Linked DNA regions of Homo sapiens: regions 2, 3, 4 and 5 are each linked to region 1. The links come from fine-mapping of genetic effects on gene expression. A gene starts in region 1. Each other region holds a variant in brackets. All regions are shown on one strand. Distances are between the middles of the regions. Region 1 holds the start of TPM1 (tropomyosin 1). Region 2 overlaps LOC105370854 (a long non-coding RNA gene). Region 3 has its middle 92 kb from the start of TPM1. Region 4 overlaps TLN2 (talin 2). Region 5 has its middle 20 kb from the start of TPM1-AS.

Evidence for each region. PIP is the estimated chance that this variant, and not a neighbour inherited with it, causes the effect.
Region 2: its variant is fine-mapped to the expression of TPM1 in cerebellar hemisphere (GTEx, PIP 0.98).
Region 3: its variant is fine-mapped to the expression of TPM1 in cerebellum (GTEx, PIP 0.97). The same link has a PIP of 0.9 or more in cerebellar hemisphere.
Region 4: its variant is fine-mapped to the expression of TPM1 in nucleus accumbens (GTEx, PIP 0.99).
Region 5: its variant is fine-mapped to the expression of TPM1 in whole blood (INTERVAL, PIP above 0.99).

Annotation. Positions count from the first base shown.
Region 1 is chr15:63,039,790-63,044,892 of GRCh38, reverse strand. It overlaps TPM1 (tropomyosin 1), which reads right to left and starts at 2,146. Exons shown (of 10, transcript NM_001018005.2): 1 at 1,950-2,146; 2 at 741-866. The coding sequence starts at 2,063. RefSeq lists enhancers at 461-1,374, 2,288-3,202.
Region 2 is chr15:62,872,517-62,877,619 of GRCh38, reverse strand. All of the region lies in intron 1 of LOC105370854 (a long non-coding RNA gene), which reads left to right. Among named protein-coding and RNA genes, the nearest start is that of MIR190A, 51 kb to the right of the region's middle. RefSeq lists an enhancer at 1,406-2,244. The variant G/A (reference allele first, on the strand shown) is at 2,556.
Region 3 is chr15:62,947,740-62,952,842 of GRCh38, reverse strand. No RefSeq gene overlaps it. Among named protein-coding and RNA genes, the nearest start is that of TPM1, 92 kb to the left of the region's middle. The variant G/A (reference allele first, on the strand shown) is at 2,211.
Region 4 is chr15:62,791,613-62,796,715 of GRCh38, reverse strand. It overlaps TLN2 (talin 2), which reads right to left. Exons shown (of 59, transcript NM_015059.3): 46 at 3,929-4,075; 47 at 423-589. Among named protein-coding and RNA genes, the nearest start is that of MIR190A, 30 kb to the left of the region's middle. RefSeq lists an enhancer at 1-458. The variant G/A (reference allele first, on the strand shown) is at 2,151.
Region 5 is chr15:63,067,154-63,072,256 of GRCh38, reverse strand. It overlaps a transcript of TPM1 not described here. Among named protein-coding and RNA genes, the nearest start is that of TPM1-AS, 20 kb to the right of the region's middle. The variant T/C (reference allele first, on the strand shown) is at 3,149.

The DNA.
Region 1 (5,103 bases):
GTGGTGGTTGTCAGAAGGCTGACAGGTGGGGGCGGGGCCAGCAGGAGGGGCAGGGGGCAGCTAGCTCACTATACCATATAAAGCACTGAGCTATATATAACTCACAGCTTACTTTCTGGATCTAGTGCCTTCAGACTGCAGACCCAAGCAAGTATCATCTTCCCAGGCAGATCTTAAGGGGTGGATTAAGGCTTACACTAATGAGAAAGGAAGCCTCAAAGTGTCTCTGTGCCCCACCATGAAGTGCAGCCATCTAAGTAAAGGTACCGCTGTGTCATTTCTTTCATTTAGAGGCCAGGTTCTCTGAACCCTGACTAGACCCACCACCAAACCCAGAACTTCCCACCCACTGGAAACGGCAAAAGGAAAGAAAGTGAAGAAAACCTGGCATTCTCTACACAAACCTTGGTGATGACACCTCAAGGGTTTTCTGCCACCAGGGAGGTGAAGTTCACCTCCAGAGTCCAATTTCAGCTGCTCTATTCTCCCAGCCTCTCATCCACCCACCTCCACCCCCAGGGAGGTAAAGGAAAGGAGAAGAAGAGAGGAGTGGATGAAATATAAATGAATGTGTGCAGTAGCAGTCAGAGGCGGCATCCAATGCTCTGGGCCATGGCAGGGCTGTGTGCAGGTGTCCAGCAGGAAAAGGTAAACTTCCTTCATTGCTCTCCAGCCCTGTGGTGACCCCGGAGTGGCCACGCAGGCAAGAGGTGAGGGAAGCAGTGTGAGCGTGCACTTACATCGGTGGCCTTTTTCTCTGCCAGCTCCAGCTTCTCCTGGGCATCTTTGAGAGCCTCAGAGTATTTGTCCAGTTCATCTTCGGTGCCCTTGAGTTTCTTTTGCAGTGACACCAGCTCATCTTCCAGCTGGGAGTTGGCCAGGGGGTACAGGGAGGGAGGGGGGTGCAGCAGGCAGCGTGATCCCGAAGGGGAGGGGTGTGGGTGCACAGAACCAGAAGGACAGGGACAGCGGGAGAGACAGAGGGAAAGACAGGGAGGGAGAGAGAGAAAGAGAAAGAGTTAGCCATTCGTGCGCCACGCCGTGCCGCGCGCCCCGGGTACCTTGGCGGCGGCCTCTTCGGCGGCCAGGAGGCTGTCCTCCGCCTTGTGCAGCTCCTCCAGCACCCGGTCCCGCTCGTCCTCCGACACCCGCAGCAACTTCTCCTTGGCCGCGATGTCCTCCTCGAGCTGGGGGCAGCGGCGGGCGGGCGCGGGCGGCCGGCACGGACCGGGTGTTAGACACACACAACACACGGGCGTCGGGTTGGCTGGGGCCCCTCGGGCTCGGGGCGCCGCCGAGTTGGAGTGCAAAGGACCCGAGGTAACTTCCTCTTTACCCGAGCTGGAACCGCTCCGCGGCTCACCCCGCACACCCACCTGCCCTGGGACGAGACTCCTGCCGAGGTCTCAGCGGGCTCAAGTCCACTACTTGGGGACACAGAAGAACGCCACTGCTGGCCTGGCTTTCGGGCTGTAGCCTCCATTCCGCCCCATCTTTGTTCTTAGGTAACAACTCCAGGACTCCCTTCTCCTCCCCAAGTTTAAGGTTCCTTTCTCCCCAGTCAAAAGTCAACGAACTTCTAACACTTGAGTTACTCGACCCCCTTTCTCCATCCCTCGCCCTTCCTTCAAACGTCCCCAGGAACCGGGTGTCCTCCTCCCTCCCCCAAACTGATTCCCAGTCCTGAGAATAAAGCGCCTCTAGGACTTGATTTCGCGGGCCATGGGAACCAGAGAAGGGAAATAAGCGTCCTCAGACCAGACTAAGTTAGACTAAGCCTGGCTCTTGCGTTTCCCTTCCTTCTTTCCAGACGCGCGCCCTGGCCGCCCTGGGTGGTGGTGGGGGTAGGGTGGTGGCTCCCCGAGTCCTCGGGGTGGGGATCCAGCCGGGGGTGCCAGGCTCGAGTCCCGGCGCTCTGGGCGCGGGCGCAGGGCCGGGGAGGCGCAGACCTGCTTGCTCCTGTCTTCCGCCGCCTTCTTGTCGGCCTCCGCCTGCTCAGCTCGATCCAAGGCGTTCTCCTTGTCGAGCTTCAGCATCTGCATCTTCTTCTTGATGGCGTCCATGGTGGCGGCGGCGAGGGGCCCTGGGGCTGCAGCAGGAGCGGCGGGGCGAGCGCGCGGTCGGGCGGAGGAGCGGGAGTGCGAGCGCGGAGCCGCCTGCTTCTCCCAGATATGTACTTTCCCAAGGGGGCGACCGCATTCCTCAAGACAGCCAATACTTTTTTGGAAAAGCTTTTTTCTCCTGCCCCCCTTCCTCCTCTCCTCCCTCCGCCCCGTGCCCCCTCCCCGCTCCTCCCGCGGGGGCCGCTCGCCCATTCGCTGCCGGCCGCCGGCCTCCCAGTTGACGGTGGATATGACTATATATGGGGACCCGAGCCGCCGAGGCGGCGGCCGGAGAGGCCGCCCTGTTTCTAAACCTGCGCGCCAGGGAGAGGGCGTTGGGGCCGAGCCGGGGCCGAGGCGCAACCCTCCGCCCTCCGCGTGCCCTTCTCCCAGGGCCGGCACCCAGCCATTAGGGTCCCCAACCGAGCCCGCCCTGAGCTGCCGGAGGCCGGGAGAGCGCGGACCAGGTGGTGGATGCGCGTCGCCCCCCTGTGCCGTCCCCCGGCGCGCTTAGCCAAAGGCCCGGGGGCTTCCCAGCCGTGCTGCACCCCGCGTCAGGGTCAGTGCGCTCTCGGCACCCGCCAGCGCCTCCCCGGCAGCTCTCAGCCAGCCAGGTGTCATCCTGCGCGCTCACGCTCTGGAAACTCAACTGCAGCAGAGAAAGGGAGAACGTGGGAGAAAGCCTGGGGCGGCTCTTGAGACTTTCTCTGCGGGCGCGGGTCAGAGAGGCAGGGGGCGGCACAGCGACAGCACACGGAGTCTTGTTTTCTGCCTGCCCTTTCCCCCAGCGGAGGGACAGTCAAATACTTTAGGGACACAGGACTCAGTGGCGTACTTCTGTGCTTGCTGTGCAGTGCCTCCAAAAAGGTGTGCATGTGTGCGTGTGTGTGCGGGTGGCAGTCTAAGGGGAAAGAACATTGAGTTTAGACTCAGGCAATTTGGTCTGTGGTCTCTACTCTGCCACCAGCAACTGTGAGACCTTGTTTGCTGCCCGCGGCTTCCTCAACTTTAAATCCAGCGGGTAGATAATCCCCGAGGTCCCTCCAGATATAACTTGTTATCATTTTTCTTGCACTGATTTTAGGGAGTCGGCCTTCCATGTTAGATGCTTAGGTGCCAGGTTTCGGAAAACATGGGATCGGCGTTAACCTGGCTAAGTCATTGCATCCGCAGCCGCAACTCTGAGGAGGCTCTGCCGTGTGAGCTGTGCTTGGAAGGAGGAGGATTTCCCCCAACACTTCTTATTTTTAACTACTCCTCCCATCTCCCAAGGGGGAAAGGCTGCTTTTTTTCAGAGCTTCAGTGGGAGGGGAGGAGAGGGGGCTGCCCCCAAGCCCTGAGATCAGCTGAGGCAGGGTTGGTGAGGGTCTTGTTAATAGTCCCCACAGAATAATTCACAGTCTGTACTGCATGGTTACCAAATATTCCCCGGACGGTATCTGAGCAGATTAGGCAGGCCAAACAACTTGTAAGTCCTTCAGAGAATGATCAAATTCCTCTCCAAGATTTTATCGGGTTTCTTCCACTAACCTAACTGCCCAGGAGGGAAAAGATACACTGACCTAATGGTCAGAACATTAGATCTGACCATTAGCATAGGGGCTGCGTGGCACAGAAATTGACCAGAGCCCTTTAATCACGGTGTGTCAACCCAGCCACCGGAACAGTGACAAAGTTCCAGGCATGTGGACGATATCCAGATGCGTGGACTCCAGGGAGCTGACTCCCCAGGTTGGAGCTCAGCAGAGGAGGCAAGAATAGGGAGTTAGGAGTCAGTTCCAGGGATCCAGACCTGGCCTGGTCACTTCCTTGCAGTGTGACCTTAGCCATGTTACAATCTCTCTAAGCCTTTTTTCTCACTTATAAAAAGAGGCAACTGAACTAGAGAAACTCCTTGCGGGACCACATGTTACTGACTTTTCTTTTCTTACTGTGCCATATGTAGCCGAGGGACTCATTAAAGTTTCCTTAAATGAAATCATGCTACAAGCAATTTATTAAACACACGGTTGTTGAGTACCTGCTATATACTAGGCAGGTACTAGGCTCTGGAATCCAAAGAATGAGTAGCACAGGTCTATGTCCTCCAGGTGTTTGGCATGAGAAAGGTGTTAAGAATTCACACGAGGAAGAAATAGAAATGACTAGGTCAGAGCAGATGGGAAAAAATTCTCTGAAAAGGTGATGGCTTTTAAACTGATTTTAAAGGAAGGGTAGCAGTTAGCTAGAGAGGAGGGCCGTTGTATGCGCCAAGGAAAGAAAAAGGAATGTTTGGTGGTGGTTGGACAGTAGGATTTTGGGGGTGAATGGGGGCATGAGACTGGAAAGGAAGCTTGGGGCTGTATGATAAAGGGCCTTGAATTCCAGATTCAGACATTCAGACCTTATTGTGTAGTTTAAAGCCATCGATGTCTCTTCTTTTCACCTCTTCCTCTCCCAGACTCCCTCACCTAGGGCCTATATTCAGAGGTCGAAGCCTATGGTGTCAAAGTATGGAAATGGAGCTATACAACGCTAACTTTTAAAATCCCTTAGTACCACATCATTGATCTCTAGACTGATGGGTTAACATAGCAGGTCCTGAATTCAATCATTTCTTTTAACCCATGTTGAGATTCTGCCATGTGTCAGGCCCAAGTCAGCTTCATGGGCTATACCACCCATGACCTTTTTGTCACCAAGGGCTAAGACAAAGCTAGGACAAGCAAAACGTCATGACTTAAATAACACATTCTTCTGTAGTGAACAGGTCTCCTGGTCCTCTCCAGAGGTAGGCTGGACAGTCACAGGCTGTATGTAGTGTGTATCCCTGTTCTCTGGCTGATTGGCCACAACTCAAGGATGGATCTAAATACTAACCAGGGACTTGGCGTTGTGGCTTGTCAGGCAATGATGAACTGGGCCACTCAGCTTCTTTCATTGCAGTTTGAATTAAGGAACGTGAAAAATGGGAATCACTAGCCGTGGCTGCTGAAACAAAAAGGGATTGCAGTGTCGGGCT
Region 2 (5,103 bases), 170 kb after region 1:
CTTCTGATCACCTTAGGCCTGTGAGCCATCAGCCCCTGATTCACAAATGGTGACGCAGGAAGCAGTTTACACCTTTGCCAACCCCAGCACCCAAACGGCCAAGAGTGAAGGATAAAGCGTGCTGTTCTCACACTGCCACGGGAGCTTGAGGGCTGAGTACACAGGTCTAAAGAGAGGAGTTGATGTCAAGGGGAAGGTTGGCCTTCATAGCACAAAGCTGAGCCATTTGCTTGGTACAGTGCCTTTCCTTAGATTCCCGAGGACTTTTCCTAGCAGGGCAATGGGAGGAGCTGGCCCCCAAAGGAAGGTTGGAGTCACCCACCAGCTCTCTGTCCAGCCCGAGAGAGCGGCTCCAGCAGCCTCTTAGCGGAATCTCTCCGGACATAGACGTGTGAGGTTCCTCTTTACTAGAGGCAAGAATCTCTGAGCGCCCATGTGAGTGCTTCTCCACCCCAAGTCCACTTCAGAATCCTGTAACTGCTGGGACAGCCAGCCAACCCTGAGTGGCGAGATCATGACTTTGGTTGGAGGGTCCTCTGTACTGTTCCGTGACACTCATGTATCAGGTCTTTCCTGACAGAGCAACTCAATGTGGAGCCCAGTGTCTTCGGCCAGGCTGCATGAGATTCCTTCCCTGCACACCACTCCTCTGGGTAAAGAGCCAGAGGTGATGGCACCTGGATCAAGCTGGGATCCCACTGTTGAGGCCTCATGTGGCTCCCTCTGGCTGCCTGACCCTTTCCACCCCCTGCTTTGGGCCCCATTTGTCCAGCAACAGCCTGTTAAGTGCTAAGGCTTGCCTCCTACCACTGCAGAATTGGGGGCGGGGAGCCCTGGAGGTCATCCAGGCCTGTGCCTGGTAGGACCACCCCAACATTTACCACTGGTCTGGGCAAATTGCTGCTTCCCAGAAGTGGCTTTACCAAGACAAGGGCTAACCTCACTTAGGTCCCAAAAGTGAGGTTAGCCCTCTTTTTCATCATGACCCAAGCCCAGGAAGGGAGGACACAGGGCCTATTACATTATGTCTGGAAAGTTGGAGGGTTTCTTTCATCCAGTCGTGTTGCTAAATAACCTGCTGAGAGGCCACGGCCACATCCCAAGAAGGATCCCAAAGATGAGCTTCACCCACCAATGCTCCTGAGATGGCCAAAGGCAGGCTCTTTACTCCAGAAACCAGGAACAGGAGGCATAGGGAGAGAGAGATTTGAGTATTAAATTTAAATCTCTCCATTTAAGTTTAAATTTAATATTTAATTAAATTTAAATTTAGAAAAGAAAATTAAAATGAAACATTGCTTAGCTGATTGAAACTCCTGATTTGTGTGTTTCTAAGCTCAGAGAATGATCCCTCGAGGACTCATGGCTGGTGGCCACCAGTGATGAGACAAAGGCAAGAGAGGGGCCCTGGGCTCACTACACTTCTAGCCTCAGTGCCCTGCACCATTTCTGCTCTGCACCTCACCCCAAAAATGCCAGACAGCAGAGGGAACCCTGGGCTGAGACGGAGACCTGGGACCTAGTGCCAGCTCTCCCATGGAGTGACCTTAGACACCCCGTTTCATGCACCAAGCCTCAGCTTCCTCATCTATAAAGAAGAAGGACAATGGGCTATCACTTGCAAACCCTGTAAAGTTTTTGTTAAGCTCCAGCAAGACAGGGTATGAGAAGTGTGCAGTGGGAAGAACTTCACAATGCGAGCTATTGTTAGTGTTATTTTTGCTCATAGAGGGTGGCCATCCCTGCCTGGGAGGTGGCATGAGGAGTATGCCAGGCTGGCAGGAAATGCCGTGGCCATGGGCATGGGGGACCTGGCAGTGGCCTATGATTCCAGAGAGTGTGCCCAGGAGCTAGGTGTCTAAATAAGCAAATGCAGGCCTCCCTGAGGACGTGGACAGTCATGCACCCCACAGAAGGTCTGAGTGGGTAGTTATGGGCACCCCAGGTTTCTGGACCAGCTGTTCCTCCAGCCCGTCTTGGAGCTGGAAGCAGAATAGAGACCAGAGTCTGGGGTCAGGGTTGGGGTAGGGGCTGTTGTGAAGCTGCATTGTGCATTTGCTGTGGGAATGCTGGCAGTCACATGCCTTCTGCCATTGCCTGCCCGGCTGGGTAAAACTGAGCTTCTGTGCCTTTAAAATTGTTTGACATCTTTGAGATTGGAAACAGAGCTCCCCAGTGGAAGGCCAGCAGTAGCTATGGAATGCTATTCTAATACAAAACTTACTCTCGGTGGATTTAAACTGATAATCCCACTGGCAGGCTTTGGAGCGAAATCACCTATTATGGTCCTGGAAAAGGCCCCAGATTCTCTGGGCTGATCTTTGCCCATGTGGGCTAGTGAGAATAGAGCTGTTTTCCCTCTCAGGCTATGCAGCCCCATCTCCCACCCTCAGCTGACGAGACAACCCTGAGATTCTAGTCCGGATACAGGACTGAGAGCTCAGGGCTGGCGGGGAGTCCCCATGGTGTTTTGCTCTAAGACACTCGCTAGCCCAACCCCTTAGGGGTGCCTGGCCAAGCGCTCAACATCAGCAGATGGCAAAGCTCGCGCTGGC[G/A]GACAGGTCTCCATTCCAGGCTGCCTCCCTCTCCCAGACCATAATGTCAAGGATGCGGGCCCATTTCGCAGTGGGGGTAAGCCTGGGTACTGCAGTTTCTCATGGCCAGTCAGCTCCCGAGGCGACGGTTCCTTCCTCCCACTGCGGGGACCCTTGTGACCGCCTGGGGACTCTCCAGCTAATCCCTCCTGGGCCTGGCCCTCCCATGGTCAAGTCCTCTGTTCCAACGGAGGCTCTGGAGGCAGAGAGAGCAGGGTTAAATCCTGGTCTGCAAGATTACTTAGGGCAAGTTACTTAGGCCTTTCTGATCTTTAGTTTCTTCCCCTGTCAAATGGGTATAGTAATCACACACATTTCAGTGTTAAGAGAATGAAATGAGCTAGACTAGAATCAACAGCCTAGCACGGTGGCTCTCAAAGTGTGGTCCAGGAGTCCGCAAGACCCTTTCAGGGTAGCTTTGAGGTCAACACTGTTTTCATGAAAATACCAAGATGTTATTTGTCTTTTTACTCTCATTTTCTCACCCTCATGGTTTCCAAAGGCTACTGGCTCTGACAGCTGTTGGGATGTGTGCTGTGTATTCTTCTTTTTAAAATATTCTCAGCTTCAATTTATAAAATGATAATGATCCATAAACAGAAGTCTGGGGCCATCAATAATTTTTAAGGGGCCTCAAGACCAAAAACATGGAGAGAACCGCTGGACCAGCACAACACTGTGTGCTTAGTAGGTTTTCTTTTCATTGGCTCTGAGCTGTCTTCCTTGCCCTGTTTCCCCATTCCTTGATGCAGGGCGTTCCTGTCCTTTGCACCATAAAGGATGCATTTTATTGTTCATTTACTCCCAGCCCTACTTACTGCACCTTCACATGTGGAAGGACTCGACCTACCAACTTGATGCCTTGGTAATGGTTGTTTTTCTCATGTTGCATGAGCCCCAGTACCCACAGGCCAGCAGTATTATTACCTCACTATGCTGATTTCATCCTGGTAAAAACAAAACAACAACAACAAAAAAGCCTCACTGAAGTTTGTCACGGTCAGATGAAGACCTGTGGGCTTTCTCTGACAGGACAGAAATCGGGGTGCACAGGAATGTGGTTTTAGCCTTGGTAGTTAGGCAAGATCTGCTTTGCTTTGTCTTCAGCCTTTGGAAGCCCACATACTCAAATGCCTACTTCAAGATACTGTGTCTTCCCTGAACCTGAGGGTGATCAATGATCTTGTTACTGTATGTGCATGTTATTGTATTAGGGTTTGGTCAGAAAAACAGAAGCCACTCTAGGTATTTAGAGAAGGAAGAGAGGTTCAATACAGGGAACTAGAGGCATTCATGACCTCACAAGAGCAGCGGGAAGAAAGGGCAGAAAGGCCACTTTGAAATCTGGAAGTTCAGAGATCCCGGGGAAGTGGCCATGAATGGTGTCCGCTTCCAGCAGCATCAAAGTGGGAGATTCTCAAGGAGATGCCCGAACGCCATGCAGAACCCCACAGGAGCAGCTGCTGCTGCTGCGAGCTGGCCTGTCCTGCCTCTCAAACACTGGCTTCTCCTTCTCTTCTGCATCCCCCAAACAAGCGAGAGTAGAATCTAACCTGAAGCCTGCCAGCCAGAGAGTCTGGGAAGCGTTGTTTCCAGGCTTCTTGCCCCTGTGGTTTGGGTGATTGCTTAGGTCAGGGAGTTGACACATAGTATCTCTCATGGTTGCATATCATAGCTAGCCTATGAAATAATGGTGGTGGTATGCACAAAGTATGTCAATCAGATATACTGTTTATTAGTAATATTTGCTTTCTTTTTTGCATTTTCTGCTTTTATATAGATATATTGTTACTATTTGAATATTTCCTCTTAATTTTTTTTTTTTTTTTTTGAGACAGAGTCTTGCCCTGTCACCCAGGCTGGAGCGCAGTGGCGTGATCTCGGCTCACTGCAAACTCCGCCTCCTGGGTTCAAGTAATTCTCCTGCCTCAGTCTTCTAAGTAGCTGGAATTACAGGCACCAGCCACCACGCCTGACTACTTTTTTGTATTTTTAGTAGAGATAGGGTTTCACTATGTTGGCCAGGCTGGTCTTGATCTCCTGACCTCGTGATCCACCCACCTCGGCTTCCCAAAGTGCTGGGATTACAAGCGTGAGCCACCATGCCTGGCCCTCTCAAATTCTGATAAGGATTCTAGGTGTATACTTTGGAGAAAAACAGCTCCTTGAAATATATGTAATTGTATGAGTCAAATGATGCAAAATGTAATGAGGATTGTGAATGCTGTTCATATTATGCAAAATACAAATATTAAATTCACATAGTTTAAAAAATTAGAGGCTAGGAGCAGTGGCTCACACCTTTAATCCAGCACTTAGGGAGGCCGAGGCAGGAGGATCACTTTAGGCCAGGAGGTCAAGACCAGCCTGGGCAACACAGCAAGGCCCCATCTCTACAAAAAAGAAATTTTCTAAATTAGGAAACTAGTTAATAAAAATATTAGGAAAAATGCATTATCTCTAGATTAGCTGAGAAAGAATATTGTCTTTTTTTACTAAGTTTATAGAG
Region 3 (5,103 bases), 92 kb after region 1:
GCTCCAATGAGCGTCCTTGCATGTCTCTTCAGGCACATGCTCAGGAGTCCTGGGCTGTGTGTAACTTCAGTATTCACATATGATTCCACATGGGCTCACGTTTAATCCTCATAAAGCTCCAACACATTTCATTGACTAGGTGTAATTGTCCTGTGATAGACATGAGGCAGTTCATTGACGTTACAATTCACCCAAGGCAAGTCAACCGGCTTCATGAGGTGCTAATATGTATTCCGTTAGTCCAACATCAACGGATATGGTTCAAGTGATGGCCCTGGAACTTTCCAGTTGTGCAATTTGAGGCAAGTTACTTATACTTGCTGGGCCTCAGTTTCCTGTAGCACTAGGAATTACATGATTTATTCTGTGCTATTGTTGTAAAGATTAAATCAATGTGTATAAAAAGCATCCAGCCCAGATTCTAGCAGGTGGTGTAGAATCCATATTATTTAAAACTAAGAATGATAAATGCTCAGAAATATTTTTAATAAAAGTAATGGATTATATGGGCATTTAATTCCCCAAATGTGACATTGTTCTTCCAATTTCCCCCCACCCCCCCACTATTCTGAAACAAGCATAATTGTATATAACTAGTTCCTCAGGATTGTACAGTATGCCAGCTTCTGTGACTGATGAATGTGAACTAGGAACAACGACCACTAGGGCAGAGCCATCTGACTGTTTCTTTTATAAGAACGCGCATTTTGATAACTAATATTCACATGTCGAAGAGGGACTTTGCATGCTACCAGAACACAAACGCATCTACGTAGTAAAAACAAGTCTAGTTCTTTCCCTTACCACTTGTGAGCATCTCTTTGGAATTTGGTTTTCCTCATCTGCATAGCAGATCTTTGTTCAAGAAACTCTGTTCAAGTATATACAAGTATACTTGAATGTATAAAACGCCCCATGGGGCCCTTAAATAAGTGTAGATCAGTACGGATCATTCAAACTAATTTTATTCAATGACACTTGCTCTCAAGTTTCTTGTTCTGATTTTGTTTAAATATGTTAAGATCCTTTCAAACAAGGCTTGGGTTTCCGACTTTCCTGAAATGTGCCTGGGGCAGGGTGGACATGTAATAACAGTAGAGAGAGGTCAGATTTCAGAATTAGACAGCTTGGGTTTGCCATATGCAAGCTGTGAGGCTGTGGGCAAATTACGTCACCTCTCTGAGCTTACTACCTCACCTGACAAATGAGTGCAGAAATACCTGCTTCGTGAGGCTGTGGCAAAGATTTGATGAGGTTCTGTACACAAAACACGAACTCTACAAATATTAGCCTCCCTCCTCTTCCTCCTGTCCTGCTAAACTTAAGGCTACCGCCCTCTATGCCAAAAATCAAGATGGAAAATTCTTTTCTTCTCCCTTCAAAGGCTTTGGATGCAGCAGCTTGTCATTTCTTCTTTACCACCAATGCTTGGAAAGAGGATGCTGTATCATTGGCAGTATTGTTTCTTTCCCAACTGTGCCAATTTCTCTGCAAACCATCAGCCCTTTATTTTGTGGCTGAGTTTTATAATTTACCAATTGATGTGGGTATTTACCATCCTTAGAAACAGCCCAGGGATGCCTTTCTCTGGGGGTTTATCAAAACTGCTGAATTTGAACTCTTTTTGCCAAAACCCCTTCTATAGGATTTGGAGTGGGTTTGTGGGTTGGCAGATGCTATTCTAGCAGGAGACATCTGGCCATAAAATGAGGGCTCCACTGAATATGCCAGCGTGGTGTGCCCATGCACCACAAGAGGGGACACCTAGCAGAGACTGACAGGTAAGGTACAACACAGCCCCTCCCCGTTCTGTCAGGTGACGCTGCAGCAGACGCAATGGAGCCCTTGATAATCAATCAAGGTGTCAATCCAGATGGCCTGTGATGGAGGGATGAGGGCTACAGGAGGGCGGGTTGGTAATGAAGCTCCCACAGCTCTCTCCCATGCATGGTTAATGCATGAGGTGACACTCAATCACCTCCCAGTGCAGCAGTTGGGAGCAGGAGAGCAGCTAACTATGCACCTACCTACATCCCTACCCACACTGCTGGAGTCAGGCTGTAGCTGGACAGTGGCCTTGGACTGTTTCCCAGCACGTTATTTCCGATGGGGCCAGAGAAGATTTCCCAGGGACTGGATTAAATTAGCTGGCATTCTTCCCTCATGCAGAAGGACATGGCAGCAGGACTGCTGGGCTTCTGTCTCATGTT[G/A]AGTGATGGCACAGGAGGTATCACTTTCAATCCTATCCTACGCTGGAAAAGGCTGGTGTACAGAAGGGATATCAGGCGTGAGGAACTGGGCCAGGATAAAAACAAGATTGGCAGGAGCACTCATATTAGGCCACGGCTGGGGACAAGAACCCAGGGAAGGCAGAGAGGCAGAAGCCATGTGAGGCAGAGAAGCATTTCACAAGTAATATGCTAACAAGAGTTGGCTGCAATGACTGCCTTTGAACAGGGTACCTACCTTGGCCCTGCCTGGAGGCTGTCCACCATCCAAGCAGCCATCTATCCATTGCTCCTGGCCTGCAAGGAACCCAGCTGACTCCTCTCCTCCAGCCCTGGAGGCCTCTACATCCACCTGGGGGTGAGGGCAGGTACAGTTCGGTGCCGTCAGGGGAGGTGGGAACTGGAAGGTATGCCCCATCTTCTTGTGCTTCTTTTCTTTCTGATTTGTTTTCTGAGGTCAGAGCTAGGAGTAGTTAACAGAGAGAGAGAGAGAATGCTATTCCAGGGTCAGGGGACAGTGCAAAATTCCAGTGATGAGGAAAAACATCTATATAGGGAGCTGCATGCAATTTAGCAAGGTCTGGGCATGTGATTAGCCATGTCAAAGCTCACGTGTCCCAAACAATTCCTCATTACAGGACTTCCCCCAGGTCTTCTCCATCCCTCAGTCCTTCTTACCTGGGGAGGAGTAAATGGAACTCCATCTTCCTAGCCTTCTAGTAACCCACGCCAAACCCTTTAAAGTCATCTTGACCCCTCACAAACCCCATATTTAATCTCTCAGCAAGTCTTGTTGCTCCTGCTTCACAAATTCCACCATCCAGCTCTAAACCAGCAGCGGTTGTCTTCCTGCTGGCCTCCCAGCTTTCAGCGGGTTCCCTCCAACCTGCCTCCTAAGTGATCTTCTAGAACATGTCACTTCCCTTTTAAGATCCCTCCAGTGGTTCTCTGCAGTTTTAAAGTTTTCTTTTTGAGACAGGGTCTCACTCTGTCCCCCAGGCTGCAGTGCAGTGGTGCAAACACGGCTCACTGCAGCCTTGATCTCCCAGGCTCAAGCTATCCACCCACCTGTCCCCCAAGTAGCTGGGACTACAGGTGGCCATCACACTCGGCTAATTTTTTGTAGAGACAAGGTTTTGCCATGTTGCCCAGGCTGGTCTTGAACTCCCGGGCTCAAGTGATTCACCTGCATCGGCCTCCGAAAGTGCTGGGATTACAGGTGTGAGCCACTGTGCCCGGCCGTCTGTCCTCTATAGGATAAAATGAAATCACCTTTATATTGGCTCATAATGCCTTTTGTGATATGACCCCTTCTTACTCTCCAGGCTCCTCCTTCAACATTGGCCCTACCTTTGTCCCAGTAAACACATACAGCCCAGACCATTCATTTTTTCATTTTATTAATAAGGCACTCATCAAATATTTGAGTGATTACTAAGTGCCAGACCCTGTTGCAGAATACTACAATTGCTGTAGAAATACAGCAATGCAATAAACAAAATGAATTATCTGCCCTCAGAAAGCTTAGATTCTCTATAGGTTGGGGGAAGTAGGACAGAAGTATGTAAACAAACAAATGCACGGTACATCAGATGATAAGGGCTAGAGGAGATAAAGCAGCAGAGGAGAATGATTGGTAGAGGTTTCTGGTATTCACCCATGTTCAGTTGTTCCCTCCCTCCAGACTGTGACATAGGAGGTTCACCCTTCCCTACACCCCTCACCCCTTGCAGTTAGATGGAGACATGTGGTTAGTTCTTCCAGTGGTTTGTGTCCTTCGTTGGTGCAAAATATTCCAGCATTCACTTTCCTTGCAGCAACCAAGGAGACCGTGTGTTCCAGTGCCAGTAGCTACAAGATGGCAGAGCCTCCTTCAGCCCGGATGGCAGAGTTGCTGCTTGGAGGATAGTGGTGCTGGCAAGTTGGTCAGCGTGTAGCAGAACTTGGGAGAGGGACGATAACAACCTGAGTGGAGGCAGTGTGTACTAGGCTGCCTAGAGAAATACCTGAGACTAGGTAATTTATAAGAAAAGGGGTTTAATTGGTTCATGGTTCTGCAGGCTGTACAGGAGGCACAGCAGCATATGTTTCTAGGGGGGCCTCAGGAAGCTTCTAAGCATGGCAGAAGGCAAAGAGGGAGCAGGCCCACCACACGGCGAGAATGGAAGCAAGAAAGAGAGCATGGTGTGGCGGGGAGGTGCCACACACTTTTAAGTGACCAGATCTTGTGAGGACTCACTCAATTATCACAAGGACAGTACCAAGAGGATGGTGCTAAACCATCCCCACGATACAATCACCTCCCATCAGGTCCCACCTCCAATACTGGAAATCACATTTCAACATGAGATGTAGGTGGGGACAAATATTCAGACTATATTACAGTGGCAGTGAGGATAGAGGGGGAGGGGGCCAGGATCGAAAACTGTTTAGGAAGTAGGACTTAATAGCAGAATAACCCAGGGGTTAAGGATGAGACAGGAGGCTGGGATGAGTCCCTGGATGGGTGCCTGGGTGACCTAGAGAACACGGAAGATGAGGCTGCAAGGCTGGAGGAGAGATGATGAATTCGGCATGGGCATGTGAAATTTGAAGAGTGTGTTGGAACCATCTCATAGGTGTTTGGATCTATGAGTCAGGCACCCAGAAAAGTGGTCTGTGTTGTTTATATAAACTGGGGAGTCCATGAGAGGCAGATGATATTGGAAGCCATGGTAGTTGCTGAGATGACCCAGGAAGAGGGGCAGAAGCAGAAGGAAGAGAGCAGAGAGCCTCCCAGCATTAAAAGGGGCAGGTAAAGATGTCCTCAAGGAAGACTGAGAAGGAGTAGCTAGGGTGTTATGAGAAGAGCAGGAAAGAATATGGTATAAGACAG
Region 4 (5,103 bases), 250 kb after region 1:
CCTAGCAGCAGATAGAGAGGCTGAGTGCAAGCTGAGCAGAGATAGGGGCTTTGAGCCCCTATCTTCCCAAAACAGGGTTTAAGCGAAATATGCCTGCCCCTGCCATTCCCAATCCTGCTGGGGTTGGCCAGCAGTTTGAGGAACGGCTCTCTGGCTCAGCGTGTGGCAGGTCTAAAATCTGTCCTTTGCTGTAGCAGGCTGGATTTAAGGCTGTCAAAGGCAAAGCTCGAACCACGACACTGTGTTTACAGTTGGCAAAGGGGGCTTATTCTGATTACATGGTTCACTTTCCCAACTTGTGCATCTTGTTGAAATCAAAACAGATAACTACATTTCTGGCTCCCAGGTGGCGTCTCCAAGTCGATCATGAGTTTCAGGGGCAGGCCAGCCTGAACCTCTCCCCGTCCAGGACCCCCACGTACCTGTGGTCTGCGAAGGTCTCACTGTTCTCTGCATTCAGCGTCCCCGCTGTTGCAAACATAATGGTGGTGTCCAGGTCGGCAATGATCCCAGACACAGCGGTGGCGGCTGTAATGCATGCCTGGGTTCCTTTGTTCCCGGCCTGGAGAGCCGAGAGCACCAAGGAGACCTGTAGGCAGAAAGGGAATGTGAGGGGAGCTAAGAAATGGAGAGAACAGGACCTAAAAGCAGATTCTGAAAATAATGAATTCTCTCCTAGGAGTTGATGTAGCTTAGAGGTTAACAACACACATCTGGAGTCAACGGCCTCAGTCTGGATACCAGCTTTGCCATTTACAGGCCCTGTGACCTTAGGCAAAGCTGCTTTACCTCTCCAAACCTCAGTTTCCTCATCTGTAAAATGGGGCCACTATTTCTGGCCTATTAGGGTTGTTGAGAGAATTAAGTAGGAAGAAAAATATCTGTAAAGTGTCTAGCAAGGCATTTGGCACATAGTAAGTACTCAGCAGAGGGCAGATGCTATTTATTCAATTACTGCTATGTTTCTGAAACCACAGAACGGGAGAAAGGATTAGACTCCTGTGAAAGGTGTGGCGATTACATCCCCTTTTATTAGGTTTTCAGTAGGAACAGGCCACTGCTAACACTCATCACACCTTTGCTGGGATGGAAATTCTCCAGAATGGAGTTCAGAAGGGCTGGAGTCTAGAGGGGATCTGTGTATGTGACCTCTCCACTTCTAACACTCCTGCAAGCCATCATCCACCCCCGAACCATCATTTCAGTGCCCCGAGGGCCCAGCAAGTTCACTCGGGTGTCTTCCATGTCAGAAATCCTGTGCTGTCACCCTCACCCATCACGTACACCCTCACTGCTCCGAGGTACTTTCCTATGACATAAACCTGACCACACTAACACCCTGCTTACAAATCTCCCCTGGCTGAGCTCCGTTTCTGGTCATGTGTCCGCTTCACCTGGCTCTCACCACACCCGCCAGCTCCTGACTTTCCCAAACACTCCCACCTCTCCACCCTGGGTCTGCGCTCTGCCTGCAACGACTCCTGCCCCTCTCCCGCAGCCACCGAACTAGTTGCCCCGTCAGATGCCAAAGTGAAGGAAGAAGGAAAAGCCACCAAGCACGGATGTATCATCCTGTGCCTCAAGCAGCCTGCAAAACAGCTGAGCCCCGGACACCTCCCCCTGCTCTCCTCTTCCAGAGACAGCCCTGCCTCCCGGGACGCCACAGCACACCGTTCTTGCCCTCAGGATGGCCCAATGCACCCAATGTAAATCGCATGTGTCAGGCTAGTGGCTGGAGGCTCTTTGAGTCTTTGTATTAACCTCTGCGTGCACACACCCACTACCCTTGACTACGACCCAAAGAAGAATCTGACAACGTTTCGTAGGTAGATTTCTTCAAACATGCTGACCAGGGCAGGGGAGTCACTGTGTTACCGTGCCAGCAAGAGGCATGGAGTATGAGACACTCTGTCCCCCGTGCTGCTGAGATCTCAGCAGAGGCTGTGGACACAGTCTGGCAGGAGAGGCACAGGGACCATTTCCTGGGTACCTACCACGTTCCAAGACCAGCCCACAAGGAATTGTTTCTCTTCCTCATCTGCCTTTCTTTCAAATGCTACTAGGTCCTGCCAGGAAAAGACAAGTCAGACTGGCATAGAGCTGGCCGGGAAATGAGGTATCCAGGTTCTGGAAAGCCCCTCAGAGGATGG[G/A]TGACAAAGGCCAAGACAAGTATCACGGGAAGCCTGCAGGGTTGTATATGTGTCTGGGAGAGAGACATTCTTAGCCAAGGTGAAAGAAAAAGAGTCCAGAAATAGCATCCCACCCTCTGTGAAGGGTGTGCCAGCCAGCAGGTGTTTACTGAGTATCTGCTAGTCACTAGGGTCTGAGGACACAAAGGCAGACAAGTCATGGCTGTGTGTGGGTACACTATACACACCATCAAGGCATATAACGAGACACAAGGCATAGAGGACAGGGACGCACAGCAAGAAACAGTCAAAAGGCCAGTTGCTAGGAACGAGCCACCTCCTCTCCTTTGGTGGTCCCTCCAGGTGTCCTAAATCAGGGACCCAAAGCCGGGACAGGTAGCGGCCGAGGCCAGCTCAGGAAGACCAAGCTGCTTGGCCATGCCTACAAACACTATGTAGCTCGGACCCCTCTCCTCCCTTCCTGGTGCTCCCGCTATAAGGCCTTTTATGGGGGAACTTGGCAAGAATAACTTCAATAACAAGAAAGGGCTTTGAAAGGAAGGCAAATGCCTTCCTCCAGCTGAGAGATTTATTTCCTCGTCTGTGGAGTCCCAGGAGGCTGGACAGCCCTGTGGGCTATGGGAGAAGGCCAGACTGTAGCTTGGCCTCAGGGAGGGCCACGGACAGAGCAGCCTCTGTGGCAGCAGCTTCCAGTTGAGGGTCCCCCCTGCCCGCCCCTCAAGTCTGTTGCCAAGTTTCTAAACAGGACAGAGCTCTGTGTCCTATGAACCAGAGTTAAGGGAAGGGGAAAAGCCACCAAGCCTGGATGCTTTATCCTGTACCTCAAGCAGCCTGCAAAACAGCTGACCTGAAAAATGATTCCGAGACAAAAAGCAAAGCAAAAGACTCGCATACTGGGGGAGAATAGAAGAGCTACTTGGGAATGAAGAAACATTCAGAGTATGGCGTGGTTAACTGGGGAAAACTGCCTGGGGAAAAAGAAGTTTGGAGGAAAGTTAGAGAAAACAGTAGCTAGATTTATTACATGTGTAACTGTGTGTCTGGCACTGTACCAGGCACTTTTACACATATCAGCACAGTAAATCTTTGCAGTTCTATCAGTCAGATATTATATATTTTTATCCTCATTTTACAGATGAGGAAATCAAGTTGTGGAAAGCTGAAGTACCTTAGCTAAGATCTTAGAGCCTTCTTCACTACCCCATGGGAATCTCTCTACAAACAACTGTCTTTAGAATCAGAAAACCGAGGACAAGTTTCTGCTTCTCCACAAAGGCACACGCCACTGCCCCATGTGGCCTAACCCACCCCCACTTCACTGTCTCATCTGTAAATTAGAGGTTACACCAAAGGGATTTTCACTCCTCCTGACTCAGCCCTCAGCCCTCAGCAGCCTCCTTGAGAAGAAAGATGGTGTCAACAGAGGTTGCAGGAAAGGGCTCTGGCTCCAGGCCTCCCCTGACCAGGGGCTCCTGGCTGCTGATGGGGACTTTGATACAATCTGCCTACGGGGAAGCCCTGCAAGAAGGGGGAGTGCCAGGGCCTGACCTTCATGGGATAGTCCCTCTAAGCCCTCAAATTCTCTGGGCCTATGATCACCCCAGCTCCCTGATGCACCCCATTTTTGGGAGAACCTGGGCAGTGGGGAAGATCGGGATGAGACAGCTGAGTCAGCTGGGTTAGTTTTGGCTGAGTTTCCTGCTTTTGTCCTTGATTACAGCGGATCACTGAGAGCCAGCGCAGGTTCTTGTGACTCTAAACTGAGGGCTGCTCCTTACCTTTTCCGTGACGGCACGGGCGCATTCGATCAGCTCCCTCTTGGTGTAGCTGTCTGTGGGGCAGACCTGGAGGGCCCCTGCCTTCTGCACCAGGAAGATACAGCCGTGGCCCAGGTCCTGCACACGAGTGCGAATCTGGAATCCGATCTGCAGAGGCAAGCCCAGGATGGGGAAGGAGAAGCGTGATGGACTCTGCCATCGAGGCCTTCCCTACGTGGAAAATTTCTCCTATGTCCTATGGGAGCCTGGCTAGGAAAATTCCACTCCTATTAGGAGTCTGTGTTTGGTGAAGTATGGAATTTGGTTGATTTTGCTTCCCTTTTGAGAGACTGTAAAATGCCCAGTCTCTACCTAGCAAGGCTGTATCTTGAGGTCCTAGCGTGATACCCTCCTTGATACATATCTTTCCTGGTTTATAGCTTATCTGCTCCTCCAGCCACCTGGTAAGAATGTTAATTAGAGGAACTTTGTGGGATAATTCTGTTATTCATTCAACAAGCATTTACTGAGCCCCTATTGTGTGTCAAGGCCTCTTCTAAGCAGGTAATGTGTTTAATTTCATTTATTCTTCAAAATAGCTCTAGAGGGTAATTAGAGGTTCAAAATGTGGTTTCCGTATTAAGCATATTTTGAAGTGTTCAGATTCTTGCAAAATTGGTATGTTTACCAACTAGAACACCCCCTTCCCCAGCTGTATCCCATGGGGACAGCGACCATACCAAGCCCAGACTTCCTATCAGGCCAGGTTTGAGGTTTCCTTTAAAAGGTACATTTTTAGAGCTAAAAGCTCAGCAGGCACACATTCTTTTAATAACTCCTGGGTTGTGTGATTATAAAAGGTACTTTGCCTAAGAGAGGCCAAGTGGGCTCCGCTGTGGATTAGCTGCCAGCTGTCTCCTTTAAGGTGTAACAAATTCCACTTCCACCTCCCCGAAGTTTGCATTCCTCCGGCCCTGTTTCACATCAAATTTCATTTTGGTCTGATCGATACAGCTGCCATAAATAATCTGCCTTCCAGCCCAGGTAGGCAACTCAAACCTAACCAAAACTTTAAGCATGGGTCAGTGTTATTTTCAAGAATCTACAAGAGCTAGAAGCTATGGCTTTTATTTTTCCAGCGTCTATCAGGAATAGTTATGAAAAGATCTCAGGTATTGTGAATAAAACCTGGGAGA
Region 5 (5,103 bases), 27 kb before region 1:
ATTTGTTCTTGTGTGGCTATGCCACTGCTAGAGGCTTAGCTAATATGTCAGGAAGAAAAATCCCCAAACCAGTAAAGCCACTGCCAAAGTCCTACATGTATGTGCAGGCATACACCAATAACATTGAAAACAACATTTGGAAAGGGTCTCTCCTGCTTGGTTATAACTTTAACAGACCAAAATAATGCTGCCTTTAGTGTTTCTGAGAAGGTAACACATGAAACCCAGTTTCCCCTGGACTGTGGGATATTGTTTTGAGAACCTATTTGTGGGGGAAGGCAGGTCAGTCACACGTTCAAAAGTTCACAAATTAAGAACATACAAATGACAGGACCACCAAATTTAGAAAATGTCCTACAATGTGCATTTTATTCCATATCATTATACAATGTTTACATATAGTTAAAACTCTCAAGAAAACGTCCTTTACCAGTTGTATGTGGTGTCTAAATCTTTAACATGAAGGACTGAAAAGAGTGGAAATCCACACTGATTGTTATCCTACAGATTGTCATGAGCTGCACGTGTGCCAATCAGAAAGGAATGGAAGTCTCGGAAGAGCAGCGTGGCTTACAGACCCTTGGCTTTAGTGAATTCAGGCATGCGGGATCCATAGTCTCATCTTGTAGTAAAACTCAAGACAAAATAAATTAGTGTTGGACAGAGTTCTACATTGTACAATGTTGAACAAAAGACCACAGGGGGACCTTTTGTTCAAAGTAGCACCAATCCACACCTGATTGTGTTTCCAACATTAACCTTCCTGTTGACTCTATCATTGGCACTTTGAATGGAACTTCTTCTGCTTTAGTGAGGATTCCTACGCTGACTAAGCACACTGTGTTGCTAAACTCTCTACAAAGTGTGGCAGCATCAACCCGGGAAATGGCACATTTGAACCAGGATCGCCCTGACATGGGCTTGCCTTTTTGTATGTGTTTTCCCCACCCCCTGACCTAGCTGGTATCTTGTGGATGTTTCTGTGACAGTGGTAAAAGTAAATAAATTGCATTTAAGGGGTAAGCAGGTGTTTAAAAACAAAACAAAACAAAACGAAAGAATGTGGTCGCAGCTAAGGAGGTTTTCACATGTTGTTTAACTCCAGTAAAGTCTGATCCAGCATCTGATGCATACTAAGGTTTTCTTCTTTGGCATGAGCCACTTTCTCTGTGGTGAGATTAGAAAATTAAGTCATGAATAGCTGTGCTTTGGACACAATGGTGGTTTGTACATTTAGGCAGGCAAACATCAATCACAAACACAGGATGAGATGATTAGAACTAGGCATGCTTGTAAGACATTACTCATTTCTAGACAAGAACCTAAGACGGAGGGGAGGGCATCTTTGACCCAAAGGAGCCATGGCACGGATTCTCACAGAGCAGTCAGGTGCACCTCCACCAACAATTCACTGAGGATAAAATGCACGTGGGGTTTGGTGAAGGTTCACTGACGGTGTGCCGTGGGAACAGGGAGAGGTAAAAACCAAATACAGCTGCAGCACTGTTATACAAACTGAAGAAGTTACGAACAGCAGACATTTCCAAGGTACAGGCAGTTAAAAGTCTGGGAGTTGTGCGGTAACACAAACTCACAAAAGCAAAGATGACATAAATAGGTTTTCTGAGAACTTTTAAAATGATTTATTTCTGTTGCTCATAAAAAATTGTCAACATGTTTCATGCACACTTCATTAGGACATTCTCTTAATATTTTTATAGTGTTCTATTTATTAGCATGACATTCTCCCCAGACTCCAACAGCACCATTAGACTGAGTAAAGCATACCTTTCAGACAACCAGGGGCTTCTGGCATGAGTTCCTGTTTTCAAAAGCTATTTTGCCCAAGCATAGGTACATTTAATCATATTTCAAACACTATACCAGATATTTAGAAGTTAGGAATATGAGTATCTGATAGGAATATATACACACACACACACACACACATATATATATATATATACATACTTAAAGTAGGACTCATGGCTGTCAGGAAATAGAAAACATTTTTTGGGGGGGCTCCTCATTATTTATCAGTTCAAACAAGAGGACCTGCTATTTCAAGGAGCAGTGCTGAATTGATATAAGTATTCTACCATAAAAGCTGTTTTGTGATTAAAGAGAACGTAATTATTCCAGCCATATAGAGAAACAAGCAGGCAAGGCCAGCCTTTCAGCCAATTCCTTGCATTTGCATTTCTGCAGAAAGCAACTGTTTTCAACTCTATTAGTTGAAGGTAGGACAGTCTTAGATTTTCTGCACATGGGCTCCACGCCTAGAATTCAGCCCAAGTTTTTTCACTCTTAAGTTTAATCCTCATTCAGGGCCAGCTTTAGTTCATTAGTGAGGCGGCGATTTTGCTCAAGTTGCTGGTAGAGTTGATCTGTACAGGTCAGCAAGCAGGTTAGCAGAAAAGAGGCAGAAGGAAGACAGGTTAGCAGACTTGGTGAGAGGCAGTTAATAGAGAACACAAAGAGACCTCAAGCAGGACAGCAACTGGTCACTTGCTGAGCAGTTTACTCTTACCCCATAGTCACCTGTCCTGTATCCAGGAAGGGTAGACCCTAAAAAGCTTGGTAGACTTAGGAAGTGTCAGAATTTCTCTCTTGGTGAGGAAAGGAGGGGAGGAGGAGCAACAGGATAAGAGGAGGAAGAAGAGTGAATGTTCCTCTTATACCTCACTAAACCACTTTGTGAGCTGAGCCATACATGGTTTCTGGCAATAGATTTGGGAATGCAGGCCTGGCTGGAGGCGAGCCCAGCGTGACATCCACCCCTTGCTAGGGCTCAGTGTTGAACTTAAGTGAAACATCAACCTGCCCAGTGCTGCCCACCTCTTCCAGAACCCCTTTCCTCTCCGTTCACAGGGCAGGCTTTCCCCTCAGGTAGGACCAACTGGGGGTTACTGCTTTTGCTGCACTGAAATTTTTTGAAATTTGGAATTAAGTCTCTGTCCTTCCCCCAGTCACCACAATACAGGGTACACATTCTGACTCCTGTCTAGCTTTGATAGTGTTATCCATTCAAACAGCAAAAGAACAAGCACTTGTCACCACTCAACACTGATTTAGAATTTATCTGCTTGCTTTTTTTGTTTTTTGAGACTTAGTCTCGCTCTGTCCCCCAGCGTGGAGTGCAGTGGCG[T/C]GATCTCAGCTCACTGCAAGCTCCACCTCCCGGGTTCATGCCAATCTCCTGCCTCAGCCTCCCTAGTAGCTGGGACTACAGGCGCCCGCCACCACGCCTGGCTAATTTTTTTTGTATTTTTTTTAGTAGAGATGGGGTTTCACCGTGTTAGCCAGAATGGTCTCAATCTCCTGACCTCATGATCCGCCCGCCTCAGCCTCCCGAAGTGCTGGGATTACAGGCATGAGCCACCGCGCCCAGCCCTATCTGCTTACTTCTTGAAGAGGATGGCATTCATGTGTGGTGCTAATGGATGTGTATAAAATGAACGAAACTTGCAACACCTACATGAAGACCAGCGTGATATACATTTTACACACTGACACGTGATCTGCTTACGGGGGAAAACAAGTGCAGGAGTCAGTCTGTATCTGATGATCCAGGGGACATCCAAGCTATGACAAGCAAGAGCCCGGTATGCACTGGGAACAGCTGGAGGATGCACGGTGGCTTTGAATGCTGGTGACAACTTGGACCTAAAAATACTTCATGATCTTGAAAAGCTAACAGACCTACCCCTAGGGAAAATGTGCCTGCAGCCCCCGGGTCTGTCAGGAGACTGAGCAGTTCTCACATTAACATTCTCTTATAAATGGTAGGACATGGGAGGATGCTATGCTCGTTATGTTTTCTCGCTTGGAATATCTGCTGCTCTGTCCTCTTTGCTCATCCACATTTTTTGAATATGCCAAACCCCAGTCAAACGTCCGCTACCTCCTCCAGGGAGCTCCCAGTCAGAATGGTTCTCTCTTCCTTGTTGCCTCCAAATACACATGCCTATTAGTTCGGACTCGCTTCACTCCTCTATCTCCCCATCAGATGCCCAGCTTATTGAGGACAAAGAGCCTTTCCAGCCCATCTCTTTACCACACCCCCACTGCTTCCCACGGTGTTTTGCACGTGACATATGCTTGGGGGTTCCAAGACATATATCCCATTACTACATTCACACTATGGACATAGGAAGTGTCGCCATGGGTGGGGAGCTTGTCTCAGTTTGCTGAGCCCAAATGTTTGGCCAGGCTAGAATGGAAGAACTTTGGAGAAAATCTGGAGAATCCAGAGGGTCAGTATGAATTCAGCAGGAAGGACAGTGGTCCCTCCGACAGCCTCCTCTGGATCTGCTCTGCTTCAGCTGCTGTGGAGCTGGTGTGCATGGGTGGCCCAAAGGCAGGGACAAGACATGCTCATATCCTTGGAAGTGTTTTCCCTTCCGGTTCTATGGAGACTCCCAGCTGTCTGAAACTTCAAGTGCCCAAACTCAGTGATGCTTTTGGTTTGGCCCACCAGAGCAGCTGTAGCTATGGCCTGGCCCTTTGAACCAGAAGCCTGGTTCAAATCAACAGTTGAACAAGAAATCAACAATTTCTTGATAAACTTGAGTTTATCAAGTTTTCCTCTTGCACATGCATACCTTGGGCTACTCCTGACCTGCCCTCCCAGTCCATTAGTGCCCCACTTCCCCTTGTAGAGTGTACTTATAGAAAGTGCGAAAGTCTCTGGAAGGATTTCCAAAACACAGATGTGCCTCCAGAATTACATGAACATCTGCTCAGCAGAACTTTCAGACTTGGCATTTTGTCTACATCAGGAAGCAGGATTTACTCAGAGAAGGGTACACTTCTCTTATTCTGAATTTAAAAAAGAATGAGGAAGGAATCATAGTCAGAAGCAGGCCCAAGGAGCCTTAAGAAAAGAAAAGCATGAAATCATGGAAGTCTTTATAAACTCAAGGGAGAGACATTGTCCAGATTCTAAAATTCCACCATACTATGACTAAAATACTTTAATTCACAGCTTTCTTTAAAAAAAAGTATTTCCTCTATGCTTTGAAGTCTCTGTAGAGTGAGAATGACACTATCTTCTGAGTTTGTCCAAATTTATTTGAGTATGGTGGTATATCAGCCCTCTCGGGC